Regions from separate parts of the Homo sapiens genome. Here all the other regions are reported to be linked to region 2. The links are microRNA targets in miRTarBase. Many come from high-throughput screens and were not tested one by one. Region 2 holds a microRNA gene; each other region holds the end of a gene's coding sequence.
The links. The annotated mature microRNA hsa-miR-548d-3p reads CAAAAACCACAGUUUCUUUUGC and lies in region 2 at 3,672-3,693, opposite strand. An mRNA with a match to its seed (bases 2 to 7 or 8) in the 3' UTR can be bound and repressed. Matches are read on the target gene's strand: a 7mer-m8 pairs with bases 2 to 8, a 7mer-A1 pairs with bases 2 to 7 and ends in A, and an 8mer does both.

Region 1: miRTarBase lists GIN1 as a target of hsa-miR-548d-3p. Seed matches in the 3' UTR shown: 7mer-A1 at 4,662-4,668.
Region 3: the mRNA of EXD2 is a reported target of hsa-miR-548d-3p. Seed matches in the 3' UTR shown: 7mer-A1 at 5,841-5,847, 7mer-A1 at 4,478-4,484 and 7mer-A1 at 3,775-3,781.
Region 4: the mRNA of RABIF is a reported target of hsa-miR-548d-3p. The part of its 3' UTR that is shown has no 7-base or 8-base seed match.

Annotation. Positions count from the first base shown.
Region 1 is chr5:103,081,997-103,089,118 of GRCh38, forward strand. GIN1 (gypsy retrotransposon integrase 1) reads right to left here. Exons shown (of 8, transcript NM_017676.2): 8 at 4,004-6,176. The coding sequence ends at 5,902. Among named protein-coding and RNA genes, the nearest start is that of GIN1, 35 kb to the right of the region's middle.
Region 2 is chr17:67,467,833-67,474,954 of GRCh38, forward strand. MIR548D2 (microRNA 548d-2) reads right to left here and starts at 3,753; the gene lies at 3,657-3,753. All of the region lies in intron 1 of PITPNC1 (phosphatidylinositol transfer protein cytoplasmic 1), which reads left to right. It overlaps MIR548AA2 (microRNA 548aa-2), which reads left to right and starts at 3,657; the gene lies at 3,657-3,753.
Region 3 is chr14:69,240,164-69,247,285 of GRCh38, reverse strand. EXD2 (exonuclease 3'-5' domain containing 2) reads right to left here. Exons shown (of 10, transcript NM_001193360.2): 10 at 3,268-6,402. The coding sequence ends at 6,186. The region is part of intron 2 of GALNT16-AS1 (GALNT16 and EXD2 antisense RNA 1); the gene reads left to right. Among named protein-coding and RNA genes, the nearest start is that of GALNT16, 16 kb to the left of the region's middle.
Region 4 is chr1:202,874,491-202,881,592 of GRCh38, forward strand. RABIF (RAB interacting factor) reads right to left here. Exons shown (of 2, transcript NM_002871.5): 2 at 3,792-6,733. The coding sequence ends at 6,488. It also overlaps the pseudogene ACTG1P25. Among named protein-coding and RNA genes, the nearest start is that of RABIF, 11 kb to the right of the region's middle.

The DNA of each region.
Region 1 (7,122 bases), not on the chromosome of region 2:
CTAGGTTATCCGATTTGTTGGCATATAATTTTTCACAGTAGAGTCTTATGCTCCTTTCTATTTTGCTGATATCAGTGATCATATTTATTCTCACATTTATAATTTTGAGTCTTTTCTCTTTTTTCTTACGTCTCACTAAGGGCTTATCAATTTTGTTTATGTTTTCTAAACACTAACTCTTCATTTCATTGACATTTACTATTTTTCTAGTCTCTATTTTGCTTATTTCTGCTCTGTCATTTATCTCCTTTTTTCTGCTTTGTGCTTAAGTTCTTTTTCTAGTCCTTGAGATGTAGAGTCAGGTCATTTCTTTTTAAAAAAAATGCTATAACCTACTCTCTTAGAACTGCTTTTGGTCTCTCTCATAAGGTCTGGTTATTTTGTTTCCCTTTTGTCTCAAGATATTTTTACATTTCAGTATTGAGTTCTTTTTTGACCCACTGGTTGTTCAGGAGTTATGTTAATTTCTACATACTTGCAAATTTTTCAGTCTTCCCCATTTTGGATTTCTAGTTTCATACCACTTGAGTCAAAAAAGATACTTGATATACTTTTAATATATTCCTAAATTCATTAACACTTGTTTTGTGGCTTAACATGACCTATCCTGGAGACTGTCCTGTACTTACGTCAAAGGAATGTGTATTCTGCTACTAATGAATAGGAATGTTCTGCATATATCTGTTAGATCCAATTGGTCTATACTGCTGTTCAAGTCTGCTGTTTCCATGTTGATTTTCTGCCTGGATGATCTATCCATTAGCGAAAGTAGGGCATTAAAGTTTCCAACTATTACTGTATTGCTATTTCTTCATTAATTCTGTTACTATTTGCTTTATATATTTAGGTGCTCCAATGTTGGGTGTATATATATTTGCAATTGCAGTATCTTCCTGATGAATTAACCCCTTTATCATTATATAATAACCTCGTCTTTTGTGAAAGCTTTGGACTTAAAGTCTATTTTGTGTGATGTAAGTGTAGCCATTGTGCTCTCCTTTGATTACCATTTGCATGGAATATATTTTTCCATCCTGTCACTTTTAGTCTATGTGCATCCTTAATCTGAAGTCTCCTCTAGTCACCATATAGTTAGAGTTTGTTTTTCTTAATCTATTCAGTCACTCTGTATTTTGATGGAAGAATTTAATGCATTTAAAGTAACTGCTGATAGCTATGGATGTGCTACTGTTATTTTGTTCATTGTTTTCACTGTTTTGTAGGTCCTTTTCCCTCTCTTCCTCTTTCTGTCTTCCTTTGTGATATAACAATGTCTTGCGGCGGTATACTGTGACTCCTTTCTCTTTATCCTTTTTGTGTATCTACTACAGGTTTTTCCTTTGTGGTTACCATGATGCACATCTGAAACATCTTATAGTTATATCAGTCTATGTTAACCTGATAACAACTTAATTCTGATTACATACAAAAACTACACTTTTAAAATTTCTTCTCTCCCCACGTTTTGTTATTAATATCACATCTTTAGATAATGTGTAGCCATTAACACATTATTGTAGCTAGTTTAAGAAATATTTTTGTCTTTTAACTTTCATACTAGAGTTATAAGCAATTTACACACCACCATTACAGTATTCTGAATTTGACTATGTTCCTACCTTTACAGTAAGTTTAATACTTTCATATGTTTTCATGTTGTTAGCTAGCATCTTTTATTTCAACTTGAAGAACTCCCATTAGAATTTTCTGTGAGACAGGTCTAGTGTGTCAAATTCCCACAGCTTTTTTTCTGGGCAAGTTTTTGTCTCTTCTACATTTATGAAGGACAGCTTTGTTGGGTATAGTATTCTTGGTTGAGTTTCTTTGGCTAAATATCTCATTCCACTCTCCTGGTCTGCAAGGTATCTGGTGATAGTTTTATGAAGGTTCTTTTGCATGTAATGTTGCTTTTCTGTTGCTGCTTTATAAGTTTGAGAACTTGATTATGTTTCAGTGAAGATTTCTTTATACTTCTTCTATGTGGTGTTCCTTGGGATTCCTAGATAAGGATGTTCACTTCCGTCTCCAGATTTGGAAAGTTTTCTGTCTTTATCTCTTTTAAAAAGCTTTCTTCCTTTTTCTCTGTCTCTGCTTCTTCTAGAATTCCCATAATGAACATTTTTGTTTACTTGATGGTGTCTCAAAGGCCCATAGGCTTTCTTCACTTTTGTTTCCTCTAACAAGGTAATTTCAAAGGCTCTGTCTTTCGGCTTGTTGATTCTTTATTTTGCTTGATCAAGTATGCTCTTGAAGTTCTTTGTTGAATTTGTCAGTGCAGTTACTGTGTTTTTGAGTTCTAAAGTTTAATTTTAAATATGTTTTCTCTCTTTTTGTTAAACTTCTCATTTTCTTCATGTAAATTTCCTGATTTTGGTTAGTTGTCTGTGCCCTCTTGTAGCTCATTTGGCTTGTTTTAGATAATTGTGTTGAATTCTTTCTCAGGCAGTTTTTAGATGGCGATTTATTTATGGTCATTTACTGGTGCTTTTTTGTTGTTGTTCTTCTGGTGGCATCATGTTTCCCTGATTATTCAGGATTCTTGCAGTCTGTGTTGCTACCTGCACATTAAAAAAAATAGGCACCTCTTCCAGTCTTCATAGACTGGCTTTGGCAGAGAAAGCCCTTCACCAGTCTGCCAGTCTAGAGGTTCATGGTGGGCAATCTAGTGGGGTCCTCATGGGGGGCTGGCCTGATGCTTGGGTCCTCAGGGGCCAGCCTGCCCTCTGAGGTCTACTGGGGAAGACCTGGACCCTGAACCACAGGGACTGTCCTGGAGCCTGGAACTGTGGATGCCTACCTGGAGCACCATTTTAAATTGTACATTTCAGTAGATTTTAGTATATTCAAAGTTATGAAACCATCGCTAGTAAGTTTAGAACACTGTTGTCACCACAAAAAGAAACCCCATACCAATTAGCACTGTGTAGCTATGTTTCACCTTTGTAGAAAAGATGTGCATAACTTTGCAGCAACTTTTGAGATCTAATGCTCAGTTCATGTTTTCCTTCCCTTGTCATGGTGAGCTGTTATTCCAGAGATGGGGAACCATGGCCCCACATCCAGCAGTGGTGATGAAAATGCAGACAAGCCCTTGATGAACTAAGAGAAATATGTGGGGTGTCCAAGAAATAAAGCTTTGTTAAATTACTAAGATTTTGGAAGTGGTTTGCAGACACAGAATAATCTAGCCTAACATGACTAATAAACACAGGATAAAAGTCTGTTTAATGAGAAACTACTTAGGAGAAGCAAAAATTAAAAAAAATATGTTTAGAGTTGGTTATTTTAAAATGACTCTGAATACTAATCACCTTCTTGAAATGGGGGGAAAAGAGGCTGATTTTGAGTCAGATAATCATTAAAAAGAAGTTACTTCATTTGAGCTAAGAAAAAGTCACTTATATTTACCAAAAAGATATTCTAATATGACTCTTTTCTAAACTTTGCTCTTCTGAGGAAAGCAGGATAGGTAGCACTGTTTGATACAATTACGCTTTTTTAAAAAAAGTTTTGTTTTTTTCTTCCTGGAATTCTGTTTGAAATTTATTTGGTCTGTGGTATAAGATGAGGTCCTAGATTCACACCCTACCCTAAACACTTTTCCTTTAGCCTATATTAAACATAATCTTTCTTCTTAAATGAGTAATCAGAATACTCCAGGTCTCCATCTTTGATATCACATCACTGTTCAGTATGGTTGTGAAATATAATATGTGCGATATTCTGTACTGATCTTAAGACAGACTCCATTCATTACCAATGCTACAGGCCCAGTTTAGGTTTTTAGTATTCGTCATCACTGCGAAGTCCTCTCAACTAATCTCCATGCCTTGTTTTCTCCTCTTCTAATCTGTTCTTTACTAGTTGCCAGATTAAACTTCCAAAAACACAGTTCTGATTATGACAGTTTCCTATACAAAGTTTTTGCTCTCAGAAAAGAAATAATTTAGCCAGGCATTTGTATTATTGCTAGAGCTACTGTAACAAAGTCCCACAAACTGGATGGCTGAAACAATAGAATTTTATTGTCTCACAGTTCTGGAGGCAAAAGTCTGAGATAAGGTATTGACAGGGTTGGTCTTCTGAGGAATGAGGAAAAATGTATTCAATGCCTCTCCCCTAACTTCTGGTAGTTTTCTGGCAATCTCTGTCATTTCTTGGCATATAGAAACATAATCTTAAACTCTGCCTTTATCTTCACATGGCATTCTCCTTGAGTCTGTGTTCAAATTTTCCCCTTTTATCAGAACACCAGTAATACTGTATTAGAGCCCACCCTATTGAAATATGATCTCAACTAATTACACTTGCAACAACCTCATTTCCAAATAAGGTCACATTTTGAGGTGGTGGGGGTTAAGACTTCAACACAAATTTTGGGAGGGGCACATATCAATCCTTAATAGTATTCAAAGCTCTCCATAAGGTTTCCTACTTACCTTTTCAGCTTTATCCCTCATTATCTTGCTTCTTCACTTTATACCCGAGGCAGTGTAGACAACAAGAAGCCCTGCCTTTTTATGAATCATTACAATACTTTTCCATTTCTGTGTATTACTTCTCCCCTAATTCTTTTGTATCCATTTACCAAATCCTATACATTCTTCAAGGTCAAGCTTAAATGATCCTTCTTCCATAAGGATAAACACAAATTTCCTATGTAAAAACAACTTCTCTCTTTTTGCCTCCCTAAGTACATTATCTACACCTGTCTTCTGCAATTTAGCATGCCTTAACTTGTGCTGTACATGGCTTACATAGTTTATTACCTACCAGACAGTAAGTCCTTTATAAGAATGAGGTACACGTTTGACTCATCTTTTACTTTTCCCACAGTTCTTTTCATAGTGCTTTAGAATAAATATTTATTGAACAATATTTATTTTATATTTATGAATATCATAGAAATTACAGTTTAAAATCTTTGATACTGGTTATTTTATGATTTTATGATTGCAGAAAAAATTCTTAACGGATACTTTTGTTGTTGTTGTTGAGACAGGTCTTGCCCTGTCGCCCAGGCTGGAGAGCTGTGGCATGAGCGCGGCTCACTGCAGCCTCGACCTCCTGGGGTCAAGCAATGCTCCTACTTCAGCCTCCTGAGTAGCTGGGACCGCAGGCATGTGCCACCACACCTGGCTAATTTTTAAACATTTTTCTGTAGAGATAGGGTCTCCCTGTGTTGCCCAGGCTGGTCTCGAACTCCTGGGGTCAAGTGATCATCCTGCCTTGGCTTCCCAAAGCGCTGGGATTACAGGTGTGGGCCACCATGCCTGGTCGATGGTTTTATCTTTAATATATAGTATGAAAATAAACAAATTGTTTCCCAACCAATACATAGTTTCAGACCCTAATCCTGACCCTATCTAACCAATTAGATAATTTGAAATTACCAATATTCTGTGAAAGCCTATTAAATAACCCTATATTTTTTCATACAATCTTGTTTTTAGAAGTTCTAATGAAACAGAAAGAAGCTTCATTTCATTCATTGTTACAGTTGATTCAGTATTTATCAATTCCATTCAAGGTAGTTCAAACTTACTGTTTAAATGGTAGAGAATTTCAGAAAATTTAAAACTTAGAAACGGTGCCAAAACCATACAAAGGTTTGAGAGATTTGGGCTGGAATTTATTTCCCAAGAAGTAGGGGTGCTTTGCCTGTTCTCTTTTTAGAAGAAAAAGTGAATTCTATATATTACATGCTTCCTTTGCCTTCATATGTACGTATACTGATATTCAAATGTGGCATAATTTTAGATAAGAACTATAAAATAAACCTTCAGAATATAGTCATTAAGAATGTGTCAAGATACTTCTTCTATACAACGTTTTTAATGAATAAGATATCATTAAGAATTTATATTCTAAACAAACAATTTAAATAAATTTTGGTATTTACTAACTTAAGTATTCAAGAACCTGGTTTGAAGAGTCCAACAGACTGAAAGTCTGCTTTTCAAGAGAACTATGATCGTCTATCAATGGAGAGATTTTCGTATTTCTATATTCTAATAGTTCACGATCCTTGCTTGATGTCAGTAATTCATTATCGACTATACCAATAGTTGCATCTTCCACCAGAATATTTGCTTGATATGCTCCAATCGGAATTTCAGGCAATCCAATGTAGTCATGATCTGCCACTACTGAACCTTGCAAGAGATAAAGACTTTCTGAAAAAAGAAAAATCATACATTTGACTTTTAGAATTATAATTAAACATATTTTTTAATTAAACAATTTTAAGTGAGGAACAAAATCCCAAGTAATAAAAATTAACTATCAAGATTAACTTCTAGGGAGTTATACTGTCTACTAAATATGAATGTCAAAGAATAAAAAAATGACATATAAATTTGACAGTTCATACATAAACAATGCAGGAAAGGTCAAGGATTTTAAAACAGCCATTTTCCTGTTCCCTCAACCTGTCTTTGGTAGATATGTATATATGCGGACAACGGGATAGAAGGAGTGAGAATTATGGTATAGATTAAAAATAAAATAATAAGGCTGTGCACAGTGCCTCATGCCTGTAATCTCAGCACTTTGGAAAGCCAAAGCCGGTAGATTGCTTAAGCCCAGGAGTTCAAGATCAGCTTGGCCAACATGGCGAAACCCCTTCTCTACAAAAAATACAAACAATTAGCAAGGTGTGGTTAAGGGTGTCTATGGTCCTAGCTACTTAGGAGGCTGAGATGGAAGGATCACTTGAGCCTGGGAGATTGAGGTTGCAGTGAGCCATGATGGCACCACTGCACTCCAGCATGGGTGACAGAGCAAAACCCTGTCTTAAAAAAAAAATTATAAAACTATTTTTGATAATGTTATCCTTAATATGCTTCTGTAAAGCATTTCTGGGTGAATTAATAGGGTCATATAATTATTTTAACAAATAGAATTATTAAATCCTTGCATTTACAACTTGAGATAATCTTCCAATCTTTATAAAACCCATATTGGAAAGATAATATCATCAAATTGTTACAGTATGAAGTTAAAAACAACATGCCAACTGAGGCTTATGTGATAATGTGTAAGAAGGCAGGCTGCCATGGAGTAGCTTAAAAAGCTTAGCTTATTTAAATCTAATTTGATACCAAAATTCTTAGGAACTTT
Region 2 (7,122 bases):
TGTCAGTAAACAAGAGCATTTCAGAAACTGACATGGTCCCTAATGTTTGTGTTTAGAGACTCCTAATGTGTCAGAATTGAGTTGGAGACTTACGATGTAATTGCATGTCTTGTATTTCATGCCAGCCTCTCGGCTTGGTGCTGGGGCAGAGTGGGAAGCAGACCACAGAGCAGAGAGGGCCTCTGCCCTTTTATTGTCCTGTGAGAGAGATGGATATTCACAAATAATCCTGTCCCTAATTAATTGCAGCTGAGATAACCATTATAAAAGAAACTAGAGAGTGTGACAAGGGGTGACTATCTCTTGGTCTTGGTTGTCAGGCAATGCTATGGAAGGGTTATTTAGAGTCGTAGAAGTGTCTAGTACAACCACCAGCTGATGAAGATAGTACAGGAGGAAGCAGGCATGTTTGAGACATGGTGAGTTTCAGGCTCAATTAAGGAGCTGGAGATAGCTACCAGCTGTTAGCAACACTGGGGGCGTGCAGGAGCAGCATCAGGGACAGATTTGGGAGTCCCTTGGGGAAGCCGTGGTGAAGCCACAGGAATGAACAGGTGGCTTTCTTTCCTTTTTTTTTTTTTTTTTTTGAGATGGAGTCTCACTCTGCCGCCCAGGCTGGAGTGCAGTGGCATGATCTCGGCTCACTGCAAGCTCTGCCTCCCAGGTTCTGGCCATTCTCCTGCCTCAGCCTCCCGAGTAGCTGGGACTACTGGTGCCCACCACCACGCCCAGCTAAATTTTTTTGTAGTTTTAGTAGAGACGGGGTTTCACCGTGTTAGCCAGGAGGGTCTCGATCTCCTGACCTCGTGATCCGCCCACCTCAGCCTCCCAAAGTGCTGGGATTACAGGTGTGAACCACCGTGCCTGGCCGCTTTTTTTTTTGAGACGGAGTCTTGTTCTGTTGCCCAGGCTGGAGTGCAGTGGCACTATCTCGGCTCACTGCAACCTCTGCCTCCCAGGTTCAAGCGATTCTCCTGCCTCCACCTCCCAGGTTCAAGCGATTCTCCTGCCTCAGCCTCCCAAGTAGCTGGGATCACAGGCACCCACCACCACGCCTGGCTAATTTTTGTATTTTTAGTAGAGACGAGGTTTCGCCATGTTGGCCAGGCTGGTCTCAAACTCCTGACCTCAGGTGATTCGCCTGCCTCGGCCTCCCAAAGTGTTGCAATTACAGGAGTCAGCCACTGCGCCTGGCCCAGGTGACTTTCTTGAGAGAGTATGGAGAGGGATCTGGGAGAATGTCTGGATGAAACCTTCTTTAAGGGCCTGTCACCTACATGCAATAAAGACCATACTAATTGTAATAAGACCATTGTTTACTTTTTGTTCCCCAACTGGTGCAATTTTCCCAGTCCCTGTAGTAGCCCCAGGATGGCTCAGAAACTGTCTGGGTTCCTGCTGTAGACACTGTGAGAACTTCCTTTCCAAGTGTAGCCAAGCACCCGCCCCACTGCTGCAGCCTGTGCCATCCTCCCCCTTCTCTGCACACATTGCATATCCCTGTGGTCTCCGTTTTGAGCTCAGAGTGTGGGCCTCCAACCCTCAGCACCGTATCACTCCGTAGCTTATTAGAAATGCAGAATCTGCAGCCCCCGCCCAGCTTGCTGAATCAGCCTCTGTGTTTTAACAAGATCCCCGGGATCTGTCTGCCTGTTGACAAGGGAGAAGCCTGGTCTCGGTTACCTCCTCCTCAGCGTCCTGAGCCTGGCTGGATCGCCAGCACACTCAGACCAGCGGCCCCAGGCTCTTGTGACAGCAGCCGTCAGACCCGTGGGAGTTCAGGTGCGGGTCATCAGGGCCCTGCTGGCTACTCCACCTCTCTGGGTCCCTCAGCTCAGAGATTCCACTTGAGTGTAGAGAGAATTGTTCCCCTCTGCTCTGGTGCCCTCTTTGCACTAATGTTTAGGGACCTAGAAAGGGCATCAGGAAATAAGACAGAACAAAAGCCACCAAGAGGAAGAAGGAAATTCAAGTGCCATAGCTATAGAGAGGCTCAGGAGGATAAAAACAAAGCAATAGCAGGGGCTGAGAGATTTTTTAAAAATCAGCTTTACTGTGATATATAATATATATATGTGTGTGTATATGTATATATATAATTTTTTTTTGAGACAGAATCTTGTTTTGTCATCCAGGCTGGAGTGCAGTTGTGCAATCTCAGCTCACTGTAACCTCCGCCTCCTGGGTTCAAGCGATTCTCCTGCCTCAGCCTCCCAAGTAGCCAGGATTATAGGCACACACCACCACACTTGGCTAATTTATGTATTTTTAGTAGAGATGGGGTTTCACCATGTCGGCCAGGCTGTTTTCAAGCTCCTGACCTCGAGTGATCTGCCCACTTTGGCCTCCCAAAATGCTGGGATTACAGGCATGAGCCACCACACCTGGCCATATTGTGATATAGCTAACATAGAATAGAACTCACTTTAAGTGTACAGCTTGATGAGTTTTAACATATATATACACACACTGTAGTCATGTAACCACTGCCCCATCAAGATACAGAACATTTCATCACCCCTAGAACTTCCCTTGTGACTTTTAGCTGTCAATTACTTCTCTCTACCCCCCACATTCCCCACTCCTGTTCCTAACAAGCACTGATCTGCTTTTGCACTAAAGTCTTGCCTTTCTTAAAGTTTCCTATAGATGCAGTCATACAGATGTAGTCTCTTGTGTCTCACTTCTTTTGCTCAACACAATGTTTTTGAAATTCATCCATATTCCCCGTCCGGGAGGGAGGTGGGGGGGGTCAGCCCCCCTGCCCGGCCAGCCGCCCCGTCCGGGAGGTGAGGGGCACCTCTGCCCGGCCGCCCCTACTGGGAAGTGAGGAGCCCCTCTGCCCGGCCACCACCCCGTCTGGGAGGTGTACCCAACAGCTCATTGAGAACAGGCCAGGATGACAATGGCGGCTTTGTGGAATAGAAAGGCGGGAAAGGTGGGGAAAAGATTGAGAAATCGGATGGTTGCCGTGTCTGTGTAGAAAGAAGTAGACATGGGAGACTTTTCATTTTGTTCTGCACTAAGAAAAATTCCTCTGCCTTGGGATCCTGTTGATCTGTGACCTTACCCCCAACCCTGTGCTCTCTGAAACATGTGCTGTGTCCACTCAGGGTTAAATGGATTAAGGGCGGTGCAAGATGTGCTTTGTTAAACAGATGCTTGAAGGCAGCATGCTCGTTAAGAGTCATCACCAATCCCTAATCTCAAGTAATCAGGGACACAAACACTGCGGAAGGCCGCAGGGTCCTCTGCCTAGGAAAACCAGAGACCTTTGTTCACTTGTTTATCTGCTGACCTTCCCTCCACTATTGTCCCATGACCCTGCCAAATCCCCCTCTGTGAGAAACACCCAAGAATTATCAATAAAAAAATAAATTAAAAAAAAAATGTAAAAAAAAAAAATGTAAAAAAAAAAAAAAAAGAAATTCATCCATATTATTGGATGTATCAATAGTTTGTTCCTTTTTATTGCATAGTAGCATTCCCCTGAATGGATATACCACAGTCTGTTTATTCATTTACCAGTTGATGGACATTTGGGTTACTTCCAGTTTTGGATGATTTTGAGTAAAGTTGCAATGAACATTCACATACAAGTCCTTGTGTGGACCTACGTCTTCATTTGAGAGATTTTTTTCCTTTTAAACTTTTTATTTTATTAGGTTGGTGCAAAAGAAACTGTGGTTTTTGCCATTACTTTCAATGGCAAAAACCACAATTACTTTTGCACCAACCTAAATCTTCCCTCTCTCTGGATTTGCAATTATTCTGTAAATCTAAAGTTAACTTTAGCTAAATCAGGTTGACATCATATACCCCCTAAAGTTAACTTTAGATTTACAGAAGAGTTGCAAATCCAGAGAACCCCCCGTAGTCTTCATCCACCTTCCCCCAATGTTAATATCGTACTAATTATGATACATTTATCAAAACTCAAAAATTAACATGGGCACAGTTGTATTAACTAAACTCCCGACTTTCTTCAGATTTCACCAGTTTTTTCCACTAATGTCCTTTTTCTGTTCCAGGATTTAATCAGGATATAATGTTGCACTTAATTATTATATCATAATAGTCACTTTCAATCTATGTCAATTTCTCTGTCTCTCCTTGTTTTTTTATGACTTTGACATTTATGAAGTGGGCTGGTCAAGTATTTTGTAGGATGTCCCTCAATCTGGATTTGTCTGATGTTTTCTGATCATTAGACTGCAGTTGGGGTTTGGGGAAAGAATACCCCAGAGGTGAAATGGCCTTCTCATCACATAATATTAGGGGGCACATGATATCTACCTGATTGCTCACTGGTGAAGTTAACCTTGATCACTTGGTTAAGGCGTTGTCTACCAGAGTTACCCACCGTAAGCTGCTAATTTCCCTTTCCATACTCTGTTCCAGGGGTGTCCAATCTTTTGGCTGCCCTGGGACACATTGGAAGAAGAATTGTCTTGGGCAACACATAAAATACATCATTAACACTATGACAGCTGTTGAGCTAAAAAAAAAAAAAAAAAAAAAAAAAAAAAAAAGGACCGGGTGCGGTGGCTCACACCTGTAATCCCAACACTTTGGGAGGCCGAGGCGGGTGGGTCACGAGGTCAGGAGATCGAGACCATCCTGGCTAACACAGTGAAACCCCATCTCTACTAAAAATAGAAAAAATTAGCCGGGCGTGGTGGTGGGCGCCTGTAGTCCCAGCTACTCAGGAGGCTGAGGCAGGAGAATGGTGTGAATCCAGGAGGAGGAGTTTGCAGTAAGCCGAGATTGCACCACTGCACTCCAGCCTGGGTGACAGAGGGAAACTCTGTCTCAAAAGAAAAAAAAAAAAAAAGGTCTGTGCATAAATATCATAATGTTTTAAGAAAGTTTATGAATTTGTGTTGGGCCACATTCAAAGCTGTCCTGGGCCACGGGTTGGACAAGCTTACCGTCTATTCATTAGAAGTGAGTCACTCAGGGGAGGGAGATTAGGCCCTGCCTCCTACAGGGAGGGGTTTCAAAGAATTTGTGGACATATGCTAAAACCAGCACCATAATTAATGTGGTATTTTTTTTTTTTTGACGGAGTCTTGCTCTGTAGCCCAGGCTGGAGTGCAGTGGCCTGATCTCGGCTCACTGCAAGCTCTGCCTCTCAGGTTCATGCCATTCTCCTGCCTCAGCCTCCTGAGTAGCTGGGACTACAGGTGCGCACCACCATGCCCAACTAATTTTTTTGTATTTTTAGTAGAGAAGGGGTTTCACCATGTTAGCCAGGATGGTCGCGATCTCCTGACCTCGTGATCCACCCGCCTTGGCCTCCCAAAATGCTGGGAATACAGGTGTGAGCCACCGTGCCCGGCCAATTAATGTATTTTTATTATTTTAAAAGTTATTCTTATTTTTAGAGATAGAGTCTCACTATGTTGCCCATGCTGGTCTTGAACTCCTGGGCTCAAGCTGTCTACCCACCTCGGCCTCCTAAGTGCTGGGATTATAGGCGTGAGCCACTTTACCTGGCCTGCTTGTTTTTTTGAGACAGAGTCTCGCTCTGTCGCCCAGGCTGGAGTTCAGTGGCACAATCTCGGCTCACTGCAAGCTCCACCTCCTGGGTTCACGCCATTCTCCTGCCTCAGCCTCCCGAGTAGCTGGGACTACAGGCGCCCGCCACTACATCCGGCTAATTTTTTTGTATTTTTTTAGTAGAGACGGGGTTTCACCGACCTCGTGATCTGCACGCCTCAGCCTCCCAAAGTGCTGGGATTACAGGTGTGAGCCACCGCCCCCGGCCCTGGTGTGCTTTTTAATATTTTTTGGAGATGGGGTCTTGTTATGTTTCCCAGGCTGGCCTTGAACTCCTGAGCTCAAGTGATGCTCATGCCTCAGCCTTCAGAGTAGCAGGCATTACAGGTGCATGCCACCTCACCTGGCTAATAAATGTTTTTGGAGGGATGTGTTGAGCCTATGCAGGTATCCTGTTTCCCCTTAAAGTTTGCCCATGAACTTAACATTCCTCAGTGGACCCTGCCTGCAGCTATTATTACTGTAATGTTCTCCTGGTGATTTTCTATTCTCCCATGCCTTCTGCCTTTATTACATGGAATTCTTCTGTAAGGGAAATTTGTTTCTTCTCCAGGTATTTGTTTATCTATCCTCTCATTTATTTATATCAGTGTGGACTCACAAGTACTTATTTTATTCTCTGGGTGAGAGATGTTTTTAAGATGGGAAAATGGACTACTTTAAGTTAACCTAACTGTGAGCCAGGTAGCAGGAGGTGTGGGGAGGAGGAGCATAGATGCTGGGGGAGGAATGGGCGGTGGATGGAGCGAAGTTCCTAGGAAGGTCAGTGAGAAGGAGATCCGGAGGTGGGGGTCTTGGCAAAAACAAGGGACACCCTGTTCCCACAAATGGGTAAGAGGAAAGTTTGGGAGGGTCGATTTCCATGTCAGGAAGGAGAACTTGAAGGAGTTCCAACTAATTAGCTTTTGTCTTCTCCGTCAAGATGTTTTCTGTGACGACAATGGGAAGTTGACTTTTGGAATTTTAATTGTCTTGGCCAAAATTCCTGGCCTCTAGAGTAACGTTTCTCAACCTCAGCCCTGCCGACATTTGGAGCAGATAATTCATTGTTGTGGGAGCCGTCTTGTGCATTGCAGGCTGTGTCGCAGCATCCCTGGCCTCTACCCTCTAGATGCTTTAGTGCCCTCTCCTGTTTCCCCAGCAGTGACCACCAAAATGTCTCCAGGCAGTGTCAAATGTGCCCTGGGGAGCAAAATCGCCCCATGCTGAGAACCACAGATCTAAAATTAACACACACAATTCTGGCAATCCGTAGGATTCTTCTTCTCTTTATTTTTATTTTTTTGTCTCCCTCTGTTGCCAAGGCTGGAGTGCAGTGGCATGATCCATAGCTCATTGCAGCCTTGACCTCCCGGGCTCAAACAATCCTCCCACCTCAGCCTCCTGAGAAGCTAGGACTGCAGGTGCACACCACCATGCCCGGCGGCTTTTTTTTTTTTCTTGAAGAGGGGGACTCACTGTGTTGCTCAGGCTGGTCTCAAACTCTTGGGCTCAAGCAGTCCTCCTACCTCAGCCTCCCAAAGTGTTGGGATTATAGGCATGAGCCACTGCATCCAGCCC
Region 3 (7,122 bases), not on the chromosome of region 2:
TATAAAATGCAAACTTTACATTTTGCACATGTCTGTCTAGCTGATGCCCAGGCAAAGGCAAAGGCAAGCAGGACAAAGTCCAAGGCATGTCAGGGTTATACAAAACAGGCTCCGGAGATGCTTCCCTGTCTCCCTGTGAGTTCTTCATGTCTTAGCACTCATGGATGGGTAAGAACACGTTAACAGTGTGGACGCCTCCAATATTCTTGGGCTGTTACAACCCCACACACAAAACACAGAAAGAGTATTTTTACTTATTGGTTTAAGGTTTTTTTTTCAAAGTACCCAATTCAATTCTCCATTACATACATATATACATACATATATGTGTGTATATATACATATGTATATATACACACATATATACGTATATATGTATATATACGTGTGTGTGTGTATATATATATAAAATCTTAATTTCTTTATCCTTAAAATGAGAAACAGTCTTTCCCCACTCAATATCCTCCCATCTACAACACCTGGCACACTTGCCTCATTTCCCTTTTACACTTATCTCCTATTAAATCCTAGAGCACTGGCAATGTGGTTAAACATACAGATTTCCCTTCTCTCTTTCTGATTATTCAGTGGACTGGGCGATAGGGAAATGTGAGCTCCCCACACACAGACATCTCTGGTGAGACAGGTATTCTGACACCAGATGGAGAGAGCAGGCTTCTCCCTAGTCAATGAGGCCATGGTGTGGCATCCTGCTTCCCTCATTACCCTTCTTTCCATGCAGTCTCCATTCCCAGCGCTGGGGGTGGGACGAGAGTGTGCAACAAAGCAGAAAGTACACAGTACTCAAGGGAAAGGGCCACATAAGGAAACAGTGGGGTGGATTACAGAATGCTACAGCTAGGAGGGCCCTTACAGCACATCTAATTCAAACCTCTATAGATACAGAAAGGAGCCCAGAAAAGTGATCTGTCCAAAGGCACACAGCTGGTGGCTGGAACCAGAACCTCAGTCACCAGCACACTTTTTTTTGATCCTCCAATACATGACAGAACTAGGTATAGGAAAGAGCAAAATTTAAAGTTCAGTTCATGAACAAGCCCCCAGCCTACCCCATCCCCACTAAACAAACATACCTCCTTTAAAATTATCCATGTTTCAGTCTCATTCCTTTTCAGCCCCCTGTAGCTGACTAAGCTCAAAATTCTGTTTCTTACCCAGGACTTAATAGATACCCTGGTGGCCTGAGTGGCCAGAATCTCAACTCCGCCCTGGCGTGCTGCAGCCTGAGAAGGGAGATCTTTAGGAAGCAGAAGTAGGGGCCGGGTGCGATGGCTCACGCCTGTAATCCCAGCACTTTGGGAGGCTGAGGCGGGCGGATCACCTAAGGTCAGGAGTTCGAGACCAGCCTGACCAACATGGTGAAACCACGTCTCTACTAAAAATACAAGAATTAGCCAGGTGCGGTGGTGCACGCCTGTAACCCCAGCTACTTGGGAGGCTGAAGCAGGAGACTCGCTTAAATCCAGGAGGCAGAGTTTGCAGGGAGCCAAGATTGCATCACTGCACTCCAGCCTGGATGACATGAGCAAAACTCTGTCTCAAAAAAAAAAAAAAAACAAAAAAAAAAGCAGCAGCAGCAGAAGCAGATTCTAAGTAGCCATTTCAACTCAGGAATTTTCTGAACCCAAACATCATGCTTATAATAATGCTGCCTGTAAACTCGGCAGCTTTTGAAGCTTATGCTGGGAGAAAGGCAACAGGCTACCCATCCAGCAAGAGAGAAAAATTCAAGAATAACAAATAGCAAAAAGCAAATGCTTTGAGTTCAGTCTGGAGGGTATGACATTATCTCCATTCAGTCACAACACAAAATGACCTTTGAGGCAGCCTGCACCACATCAGAAGGGGGTACAACCCAGGATGCATGAACTAGGTCCTTTGACAACTCTGTTCCTCTGCAAAGGCAGTTCTTGATTATCTCTCAAATGATTAACCATTTGGTCCAGTTACCCAGTTTCTAGGGGCCTTCAACCAGAGTTGGCCACAGATAAAGCTGGTTAAAAAAAAAATGGTCTAATGTACTTCCCACCTTTCTAAATAACATGCTAGCATTTAAGCAAGGCCTTGCTTCCTCAAGCAAAGGGAGTGACTAATACGTCTCCTAGCAGGCTGGTGGAATCGGTACTTTTGAACACATGGGCTGTGTGGCTGCACGTCATCCCTACTCCATTGCCTGATGCAAAACTACTCCAGGACTGGGACAGGCAGAAGGTGCTGGGCTCTTGCACAAGGGGTATCTTGGTGAATGCCTGAAAATTATACCTGAATTCCAAAACAAAAGTATTTGGGGGACTGAGCACAGTGGCTCATACCTGTAATCCCAGTACTTTGGGAGCTAAGGTGAGAGGACGGCTTGAGGCCAGGAGTTTGAGACCAGCTTGTGCAACAAAGCATGACTCTATCTCTACAAAAAAATTAAAAAATTAGCCAGGCATGGTGCCACAAGGCTGTAGTCCCAGCTACTTGGGAAGCTGAGATGGGAGGATTGCCTGAGCCCTGGAGGTTGAAGCAGCAGTGAGCCATGACTGCACCACTGCACTCCAGTCTGGAGTGAGACCATGTCAAAAAAAAAAAAAAAAAAAAAGTACTGGGGAGATTATGTATTATTTTTATGTTATTCATATCAATCAACAGTTAATCAAAACAAGAATCATTCTTATACCCTCTTTTAGTTTATCTCTTCCAACAGAAACTGATTCTCAGTGTATCCCTAAGGGGATTAGGTACTCTCAAAAAATAACCATCTTATAATAGGAAACATAAAAGACCAGAAAGAAAGATCCATTTAAAATACATAATAATTAGTAAACTAGCAAACTGAGAAAATATCTCCTTTAAAAGAAAAAATGATACTTCTTATAAGGCTGAGACATAAGGAAGGGGAAAAAAAGGAAGAAAGGATAAATAAATGAATGAAAAATTGAGAGGCAGGGTAAACTAAGAACTTAACTTACAGTCAAATGTTAGGGCCCCAAACTAATAGGCGAATAGGAAGGTGAACAAAACCTCTTTCTGCCTGCTGGATTCTTAAGAGTCTAAAATGCATGATTAAAATGGCTTTATTTCAACAGAACACATTTTGTCATCTGATCTCTATCCGTGACATGGATAAGAATAAGTAACTTATGGCTGTGCTCTTAAGCGTAAGCCGTAACAAATCCCTGAATATTGTGCCTCATTCACTTTGGGATGGCAAATCACTAATTGTTTGTGTAGCAGGGAAAAAACATCTGCCTACAGCCTATATTTTAAAATTTAAAATTTTATTTTTTTACCTTTTTTTTACATTTTTATTTTAAAATAAACAGTGTTTCCAAAAAACATTGACTACAAGGGGGAAATGAGGCAATAAGGTTGGAAGAAGGGAAGGACTCAAGAAGAAATGCTGAACCTGCAAACACAATGATCAGGGAGCATGCAGAGAGGCCCTTGCTGTGACACTGTCCTCTCACTGCTACTCCTATGAAGCCCAGTGACTATGCTGGGACACTGGAGCTAAAGGGTCAAAGAGAAGCATTTCATTCCTAAAAGGTGATGTCAATTTGTACTTAGCCCCAGCAATGTGAATCCCCCTCTTCACAGTCCAATTCTAAGATTCCATTCTTAAGAAATTACCAAAGATAGAGCCAAAGAGATATATACAAGAAACTTTATCACATCATCATTGATAATAAAAGTATCTGAAACAACCAAAATTTTCAACAGTGTGGGGATGGATAAGGTAGAACCACTAGAAATCTATTTTCAAAGATTTAAAAACATAGGAAGTTACTCGTGATACCATGTTAATCAGTGAGAGGGTAAAGTTAGGATACCAACCTGTATCTATGTATGACCTTCAATTTTGTGTAAATATACACCTTATATGCACTTTTTAATACTGAAAGGAAATTCATAAACATATCAGCAAAGTTTAGCTCTGTTTTAGATGGAGAGAAGATGGCTAATTTTTATTCTTTGTTTAGATTCTTCTGTAATGAGCATTGTTACTTTTATATCAGAAAAATAGACATTTGCCATAAAATAAGTCTACCCTCAAATCTCTGATTTAAGACGACAATTGTCAGTCTTAGGAAAAGCCTGCTAAAGTTCAAAGCAGACTCAAAGAAAAAAGATTCAAATCTACACAGTGACTCTCTCCTGAAAAGGATGAGAAATCTTGTGTGACGCAGTCTGGCTTTTTCCTCTACTTTGCTGCTGGCTCTATTTTACTGCGCCTCACAGAAAGCTCCATGGGAAAACCCTTTCCCTAGCACCTTAAATGACCTTAAGTGTTTCTCACCTCTTGGCATGAGGATTAGAAGGAAAGAAAATGAAACAGCCCTACTCCCTTGTTTCAAAGGAAAAATTTTTCTTGCAAAGCTATCAAAATGACTTAAAATCAGCTATGCAAAATTTGAAACATAAGTCATGAGTTACGTTCAGTAACCAGTTGCTTTTTTCTCAAGAATGAATATAAAAACAAATCTATGAGTGCCCTCTTGTGGCAAGCCTGACTATTACCACAACCCAAGTACCAGCCTCTCCCTGTCTATTTCCACGGCTCTCCTCCACTCCTGGGCTCCGCATAACACAGCCAGGAGGCAGAGACCCCATAATAACCCACTACAGTGAATGCACATTCCTCAAAGTGGCTGGTACTATTTGTTTTCAAGGATTTCTAGTTTAGATCCCAGAAATGCCTGCCTGAAGACAAGTGGGAATGAAGGGTCAGAAGAGCAAGATGCAGGATGTGCACGTGGGTTCATGGGCTGCTACTGATGGCCGATGGTGACTGTGTCTGGTATATCCATGCACACATACCATGGCACTGCCAGGAGGCAGGGACCTGTAGGATAAATAGCCCCTCCCCTAGGAATGCCAGTTTTATAAAGTCGCGAAGTTTTACATTTACATCCAGTGAGCCTTGTGCTTACAAGTAGTTTTATTATTAATTTTAGAGTAAACATCACCAACTTGGGCACAATTCCAAAATAGAGCTCTTGTTGGATTCTGGTCATAAAATTCTTTTTTAAGCTTGTTAAGATCTTATAAAATAAGAAAGTTTTCCCAATACTTTAGAAAAATTACTAATCATTAATAAGTCGATTTTATACTCAAAGTAATGGCCTAACATTTTGAAAGATGAAACAACGCTCCTCTTTTGAACATCTAATGTATTAAGTAAGCTCAGTGTCCCAGGCTTCAGAGGAGACAGAGAAGTCCTCATATTGCAACCTGACCAGATGACTCTGGGAGTGAATTAAATGCTTAAAAGAGGTCAGTCTTGCAAATTCGATGAAGCACAGAATACAGGGGAACTGATACTGATTCTGATAAAAGATAACATTACTCTCAGAAAGGGGTGAAGCTAAAAATCTTGCAGTTCTGGGGCAGGAGGAGTGCAACAAGCAGGCAACAAACAGCATGAAAGGAAAAGCTGAGTGAATTTCAAAGTTCTATTGGGAGATGGAGTTTGTGGTTCTTTCTGCCCCACCCAGGTCAAAGGCTCATGTCCAGAAAAGGATTTCTCCCAGTGATAGGGTGGAAGTGTGTGGCAGGAAGTTGCTGTTTGGTCCTGGAAGTGTAAAGGAAAGCCTTTTCAAGTACGTGAAGTAGACTGAAGTGACCCAGATGGGATGGATCCCAACCACATGAGTTACGGGAGAGCATGAAGCCAAAGAAATGATAATTATGAAGTTGAATTGGGAAAATAAATTTGACTCCTTGTTCACTTCTCCAGCCTTTGGAAGAACTTTTTCTCCCCTCCTAACAGGACCGATATACTGGACAGCCCCTGTTAGAGATAAACCGAGGCACTAGACAAGGAAGAAATGCATTAAAAACATTTTTTTTAAGTCTTGACAAGTCACTTCTGGGAGAATTCTTCATTTTTCCTCTGCACAGGGACAGCAGAAGAGGGAGAGTAAAAATAAAGGCGAAGGCCTCTCTTGTCCACAAAAATGAGAGGAAAAAAGACCCTGCCCGTTTAAAATCCAAAACCATAAACTCTCCTTCAAACAATATCTTTGCTCCAGCAGAAGCATCCTGGGATTAGTCTAGGTTAGTATTCTGAGTTGTGTCACACAGGCTTTGACAATTAATGATGTACTAAAATGGGAAGAGGTGACTCTTCAACCTTGGCTCCAGCTTCCCACTTGTCCTAACTGGGAGGAAAGCAGCTATCAAGACAGCTGGATGGGAAGATCTTCCCCGAATTTCCGGAGCAGCTTCTGATGGTTGTGGTCCACTGACCACTGCTGGGGCAGGTGCTTGGGCTGCATGGAGTCCAGGAAGTGCTGACGCCAGCGGCTCTCCAGCTGCATGAGGGAGCGCAGGCCACCCTGGCTGTGACACTGCACCACCTTCAGCCCGTGAGGAACATAGTTTTCATTGGAGATTCTGCCAAAACATGAAAAACAAAGTGTCTGAGGGAAACAAGCGCAGGATGGCCTCACAGACAGCTTCAAATGCTGCGCGCCAAGGGTAACTGGGGAGGTTGAAGGACTCCTAAAGGGTTAGTTACTTTGGTGTTTTCGAAACATCCTCTTTCTTATCTCTGCCCTTTTTATAGTCTGAACATACGACTCGCAATCCCAACAGAAGGTATTTGAGGGTTCTGAGCTCTACTGACAGGAAGGCCACTTCATAATGTTCAGCTCCCACGAGAGGGGCACTACCATCCAGCTGATAATGGATGAAGAATGCTGGTCTTCCATTTCTTCCAGGATTACCCAGTGACCAGTTCACCCCTCTTTTAAGTTGTTCATTCTGGGACACAGTATTTATATGAGGCTGTTAAATCGGCCCGCATGTTACACTTTTTCACAACACAATTTAATAACTGAATGTCAAATGCAAGGTAGCATATTTCTTTAGAGCCTTTTTTCTCACAAAAAGATGCCAAGCCACAGTGGTGAGAAGTGTTTCGGTCACAGTGAAATGCTTCCATGGTTGCTCAGTTGTGCAAATGGTGCCATTAAATGAGAAGATGAATGCCTCCCTCCTTCCTAACTAAGCAGAGTCCTTAAAAAACTGCTCCGATGCTGTGTGAATGGTGCTTTCACCTCCTGTGAATAAAGATGACCTTCCTCAAGGAAGCACCCTGCCCACACACACTCT
Region 4 (7,102 bases), not on the chromosome of region 2:
TTGGTGCTGATTTTGACTTTGTTAACCGTTCCCTTGGTATTTGTTTAATACCCTGTACATATCTTTGATTTATACCCTTAGTACATGTGGCTCAGTAACTTCATGGCTGAGGTGAGGACATGCTTGTGGGAGGGAAGTCTGTGGCTTGGTGGGTCTGTGTGACCTGCAGTCTCCTTATCTGTGCAGGTACTAAGGTGTCAGAGAGCTCAGTGTTCCAGGATTTTCCTTTTTTTTTTTTTTTTTTGAGACAGAGTTTCGCTCTAGTTGCCCACACTAGAGTGCAATGGCGCAACCTCGGTTCACTACAACCTCCGCCTCCTGGGTCCAAGTGATTCTCCTGCTTCAGCCTCCCAAGTAGCTGGGATTACGGGCATGCGCCACCACACCCGGCTAATTTTGTATTTTTAGTAGAGACAGGGTTTCTCCATGTTGGTCAGGCTAGTCTCAAACTCCCGACCTTAGGTGATGCACTGTGCCCAGCCATTCCAGGATTTTTCTAGAGCCTGGCAAGAGCTCCTGAACCAGTTTCATTTCTGTCTTGCTGGTCTATTAGTGTTAAGTCTTGAGCTAGAAGCGGTTTACATTTACACCTGTAAATTTATTCATTCTTTTAATTTATGTAAGTTTTTTGTACATAATTCTCAATTTTTAAAGAGATGACCACAAATTTTGGTTTTCCACTGTTATTTACATAAGGAAAAATAAAGTGCTGCAGTAAACCAAAAAATAAATATAATTCGCTCTAACCTCTAGCTCCATTTTCAAAAGTCTGCATGAACTTCTTTAAATTAGTCCCATTAAAATGATAACACTACTCAGCAGAGTTTATTTTAAATTCTCTTCAAAACTATTTACTGAACTATTATAAATTTGTCAGACACTAGGCCATGCACCAAGAGCAAATAGGATATTCTGAGTCCTTATTCTTATGAAATTTATCATCCTTAGAAGTGAGGAAGTAGAGTCAGGCATTTAACTTTTTTTTTTTTTTTTGAGACGGAGTCTCACTCTGTCACCCAGGCTGGAGTGCAGTGGCGGGATCTCAGCTCACTGCAAGCTCCACTTCCCGGGTTCACGCCATTCTCCTGCCTCAGCCTCCTGAGTAGCTGGGACTACAGGCACCCGCCACTGTGCCCGGCTAATTTTTTGTATTTTTAGTAGAGAAGGGGTTTCACCGTGTTCTCTATCTCCTGACCTCATGATCCGCCTGCCTCGGCCTCCCAAAGTGCTGGGATTACAGGCATGAGCCACCACACCCTGCTATTAACTTTTAAATATGTATAAATTTAGGAGATAATGGAAATGAAATGCTATCTGATTTTGAAGGGAAGAACTGATGTTTAGAAAAGTGGGCTTTATATAGAACCACTACTTACATTCTTTTAAAAATCTTACTGTCACCAGGCATGGTGGCTCACACCTGTAATCCTGTAATCCCAGCATTTTGGGAGGTTGAAGCAGGAGGATCACTTGAGGCCAGGAGTTCCAGACCAGCCTGGGGAACACAGTGAGACCCCATCTCTCCAAAAAAAAAAAAAAAAAATAGCCAGGCATGTCAGCATGCACCTGTAGTCCCAGCTACTCACGAGGCTAAGAGGCAGGAGGATCATTTGAGCCTGGGAGTTCGAGGTTGCAGTGAGCCGCCATCGTGCCATTGCGCTCCAGCCTCGGTGACAGAGTGAGGCCCTGTCCCAAGAAAAATAAAAACCTTATTGTGAAAATACATGTTCAGAAAAGTACACAGAAGATGTACAGCTCACTTTATTACATAGCAACTATCAAGATTTTAAAATGTAGAACATTACTAGCATTGCAGAAGCTCTCCTCATGCCCCCTCCAAATCATTACTCCTACCTTTATCATAAATCAAGTGTCCTATATGCGTGGGTCTGTTTCTGAGCTCTTTTGTTCCATTAGTCTGTCTATCCTTGTGACAAGCTACACTGTCTGTCCAATAGAAAAATTCTCCCACCTTGTTTTTCTCCATGACTGTCTCGGCTACTCCTCGTCCTCTGCATTTTCATTTAACTTTTACAATCAGTTTGTTGAATTTCACACACACAAACTTGAGTTTTTGACTGGGATTTACTGAATTTATACATCAGTTTGAAGTTGAGATTGTTAACAGTATTAGGAGTTAACAAACTTTTTTCTTAAAGGGTTAGATAAGTATTCTAAGCTCTGTGGGCTGAGGCAGAATTGGAGATATTATATACTTACATAACCATTTACAAAACATAAAAATCGGCCAGGTGCGGTGGCTCACACCTGTAATTCCAGCACTTGTGGGAGTCCATGGTGGGAGGATCACTTGAGCCTAAGAGTTTGAGACCAGCCTGGACAACATGGCAAAACCCTGTCTCTACTAAAAATACAAATTAGCCGGGCGCACTGGCACATGCCTGTGTTCCCAGCTACTCAGGAGGCCGAGCTGGGAGGCTCGCCTGAGCCTGGGAGGTTGAGGCTGCAGTGAGCTGTGATTGTGCCACTGCACTCTAGGCTAGGTAACAGAGTTAAGATCCTGTCTCATAAAAAAAAAAGTAAAAACTATTTTTAGCTTGAAAGTTTCTGAGCCTCAATAGGTACTGGCTGAATGAATTTGGCCTGTGGGCTATAGTTTCCTGGCCCCATGAATTTGTTTTCTTTTACTTTCTCTCAGTAATGTCATATAAGGTTTTGTGTTGTGGTCTTACATATCTACTGTTAGTTATGTCTAACCCCTAGTTTTCTAGTTCTCTCCTCAGTTGTGCCTAAGCTGCTGTTAAAGCATTCCAGTGAACTTTAGAGACAGGGGCTCACTGTTGCCCAGGCTTGAGTATAGTGGCATCATCATAGCTCACTGAAGCTTCTAACTCCTGGGCTCAAGTGATCCTCTCACCTCAGCCTCAAAAGTAGCTGGGACTACAAGCAGGTGCCACCACACCCAGCTATTTTGTTTTTTGTGGAGACAGGGTCTCACTATGTTGCCCATGCTGGTTCCACTGTATTTTTTCTTTTGTTGAGACGGAATCTCTCCCTGTCCCAGGCTGGAGTGCAGTGGCACAATCTCGGCTCACTGCAACCTCCGCCTCCTGGGTTCAAGCGATTTTCCTGCCTCAGCCTTCGGAGTAGCTGGGATTGCAGGCGTGCACCACCATGCCTGGCTAATTTTTGCATTTTTAGTAGAGACAGGGTTTCACATTGGCCAGGCTGGTCTTGAACTCCTGACCTCATGATCCGCCGGCCTTGGCCTCCCAAAGTGCTGGGATTATGGGCATGAGCCACCATGCCCAATCAAGTTTCCACTGTATTCTTAATTTTGATTATTGGATTCTTACAAATTCTAGAATTTACTTTTTAAAAAAACATGTTCATGTAGCTGCTGAATTCCCAAACTAGTGTCTCTCCTTGAACATGGTAAGCAGTTATTTTAGTCTGATAGCACCGATGTCTCCAGCCACTGTGGGCCTGCTATCTTGTCTCACGTGCCTGGTTACATCTTGTTGTACTCAGGATATTGTATTAGCAAAATTGTAGAAAGAATCTGGGTTTAGGATAATAATAACATCCTCTAGAGAGGGGTTTTGTTTGCTTATCCAAAGAGTTTGGGCAAACTACCACTCTGGGATCACCTTAATCTAATTTCAAGGATTAAGATCCGTAATCGGAGGCTGGGCTGCAGTCCCGAGAGCCTGTTTCCTACACCGCCTCACCCTTATTCCTGGGGTGCAAAAGACTGAGGGCTTCAACCAAAAGTGAGTAACACCACCAAGTCCATCGCCCTTTCACAGGCCCCATCCCCTACTTCTGAAAGGCTGCTAAAATCACTGCTAAGCCTCTGAATCACCTCCAAGTTTGGCAAATGCTCCCAGGAGAACGGTGGCCCTCACACCAAGCCCACCTCCCAGGGTTCCCATCTCCTCTGCTGTCCTGGTTTAGCAATTCTTCAAAGTCAAGTCGGCTCTCTTGGTGTGTTCACACAGATTTCTAAAGTATTTTGTCCAGCCTTTCTAGTTAACCAGTGAGCTGGGTAGTCCAAAGGACCTATCCACCATTATCAGAAGCAGAAGTCCTCATAGTTACTCAGTTACATGTGTAGCCTCATATACAACATGGTGACAATTTGTGAAATGTCAGTACACCACTGCCCATCTTTGATTCCATGTTTTTGTAAAACAACAGACAATTATGTGGAAACAATCAGGCTTTCACAAAATCAACTGCTCTCCCCAATAGAAAACGGAAGTTTCTATACTCGGAGCAGAAAGCACAGGTTGCCTCTATCTACCCACAGCAAATAGCAGCTGATTCACAAGTATGTACTGAGAGCCTATTAGGTGTGAGGGAAATGAAGAAATGACGTTTGCATTTTATAGCTGACTAGATAATCAGTTGGTTGACCTTAAGCTAAACCCCAAGGTTCAGGTTTCAGCTCTCCTTTGTTTTTTCAATTTATATATTCTTCCCAAGGACATGCAGAAATCTAATTTCCATTGCTTAAATGCCTTTATTTCTTTCAGATCAAACTGAAAAGGCAGAATAGCAACCTGATATTTTTGGCTACTAGGGCAACATTTGGCAGTTCTCAAAAAAGGAAATAGAAATGACCGATACGTATATAAAAGTTTCACTAGAAATAAAATAAATGCAAATTAAAACAATGAAATACTATGGTTTCCTATTCAAGTCGCTATATATTTTTTTGTTGTTACTGTTGTTGTTTGTTTGAGACAGGGTCTCACTCTGTTGCCCAGGCTGGAGTGCCAGTGGTGTGATCTTGGCTTACTGCAGCCACCATCTTTGGGGCTCAAGTGATCCTCCCACCTGAGCCTCCCAAGTAGCAGGGACTACAGGTATACACCACTATGCCCAGGTAATTTTGTTCATTTTTTAAATAGAGATGGGGTCTCACTATGTTGCCCAGGCTAGTCTCAAACTCAATTTAAAAAATGCTTAGCTTAGGTTCTGGCTTGTGATGTGAGGGGCCATGTGCCCCTAGAGGCATCTACTTGGGTTTTGCTCCTGACTTGTGTGGATAACTCTGTTTTTCTGCACATGCCATAACGATGGACATGTGACCGTTTGTCGGAAAAACACAGTTCTCTCAATTGCTTACTAAAGCTCATTCAGGCTAATTGGAGAAGGAAGCCATCTTTCCAGGGGAGTAGGTTGGTTGCAAAACTGTGCCCAAGGCCACCTTGCACTGCAGTCGGGGAGCCCTTAGAAAGTTTGGGGGTAAAGGAATGAGGAAGCAACTAGAAAACAATGGAAGGGACTTCAGATGGTAAGGTTTCTGTTTAGTACTTATTTCAATTTTAGGCCTCCTGAATAGTAGAGGTGGTGACAGGAGGATACCTGAAACCTTGGTTATATAATAAACTTCCTTCTACGACAGTGAGTCATTTCAGAATAGAAATGATGGAATAATTGGAAATCAAGTTGAAGGCTTAAACACGTCTGCTGATATCAAACTGTTAGAGCAGCCCCGGAGCTATGGAAATTTGTATCCATGCATCTGGATGGAAGTTTGTATCCTGGGTTGGCACAGAGATTCCAGTTGAACCAAAACTCCATGAGGACCATGCCCAGTAGGTTCAGTAAATGATACTATCCATTAAAGAAGTCTTGCCTATGAACAAAAGAAGAAAGTTACTTGTCCAGATGTGGCAAATTATAAACTTTTGTATAATGTGGCAAAGGCCTAACCCTCATATCCTACACCCTCCACTCTCATTCTAAGAGAGCCTGAGTAAACAGCCAGGGCTGGGTTTTCCTTGAATGGCTGCCAGATGGGGTTAAAATCTGCTTCTCACCTTCTAGGCTGTAGCAGTGAGGAGCTAATATAAAAAGAAACTACAAGATTTCAAGGGAAGAGGGACCACACCCATCTTCACAATAAAATGTCATTCTCAACCTAGAGCAGAGGTGCTCAAACATGGTATTAGAGATGCATCCAAAGTAATGTTTCTGGTTAGTGGTTTAAATACTGAGTTTTGAAAATGCTTTACCTTTAGAAAGAATAAATTACTGTAGATCACAAGGGTAGCCATACAACAAAGTCACTCTCAGATATTTGTATGCCTTCTTGAATGAGAAAAAGGCAGATTTCAACTATTAGTACATAAGCATCTTTTGTTATGTGTCATCATAGCTAAAAGGTTGAATACTGCTCTTCTAGAGCAAGAAAAAGCGGGAGCCCCTGGGCAAAACAGAGCCTAGGGAGAATGCCAGGGAAGAGATGAGATTTTTGGAGGTAAGCACAGTGTCCCAAAACTGGGGGAAAAGGGAGCTTAGGAAATGTGATACAAAGTGAACTAAGCAGGAGGCATGTACTTGAGGCTTTAGGAAGCAGGATTAACCCTCTGCATGTTCAAATGGACATGCTGGTACTCAGTATTTATATTAGCACAGACAAGAAGGCAGCGGAACAGTTATACCACATTAAAGGCCAGTTCTTGTGGGGAGTAGGTTTATCTTTGGAGATGGAGCTGAGTACCCCTCCCCTCAGTTACTCATGGGAAACTCGTTCCAAGGCCACATAGAAACTGTTCTTGTCATCTAGGCAATGCCAGCCAATTGGTCCAATTTCACAGTCTGCGCAGACCAGAAACTTGATGTTGCCCACGTCCTTGGTGAAGCCCACATTCTCAAAAATGAACATGTCCTCAACCAGCCAGTGTTCCTGGAGGAGATCGCCGTCAGGATTGCTGCCGTCAGACAGAGCTGGCTTCTTTCTCATGGAGGGAAGGAAAAGCTGCAGTGGGAAAGAACATAAAGAACGCAGAAGTTGAACTGGCCCAGTTCCATCAACACCCCCGTTCTAGGTACACTTCACATTGCTCCCTAGCAGGAATGACAAAAAAAGAGAAGCCCTCTCATTAAGCTGTAGACGATGATGCTGGGTGGCTCTTCTTTGCCTCTGGTCTCTGCCCTGATTCTTTTTTTTTTGTGAGACAGATTCTCCCACTGTCGCCTAGGCTGGAGTGCAGTGGCGCGATCTCAGCTCACTGCAACCTCCGCCTCCTGGGTTCACGCCATTCTCCTGCCTCAGCCTCCCGAGTAGCTGGGACTACAGGTGCCCGCCACCACGCCTGGCTAATTTTTTGTATTTTTTTTTTAAGTA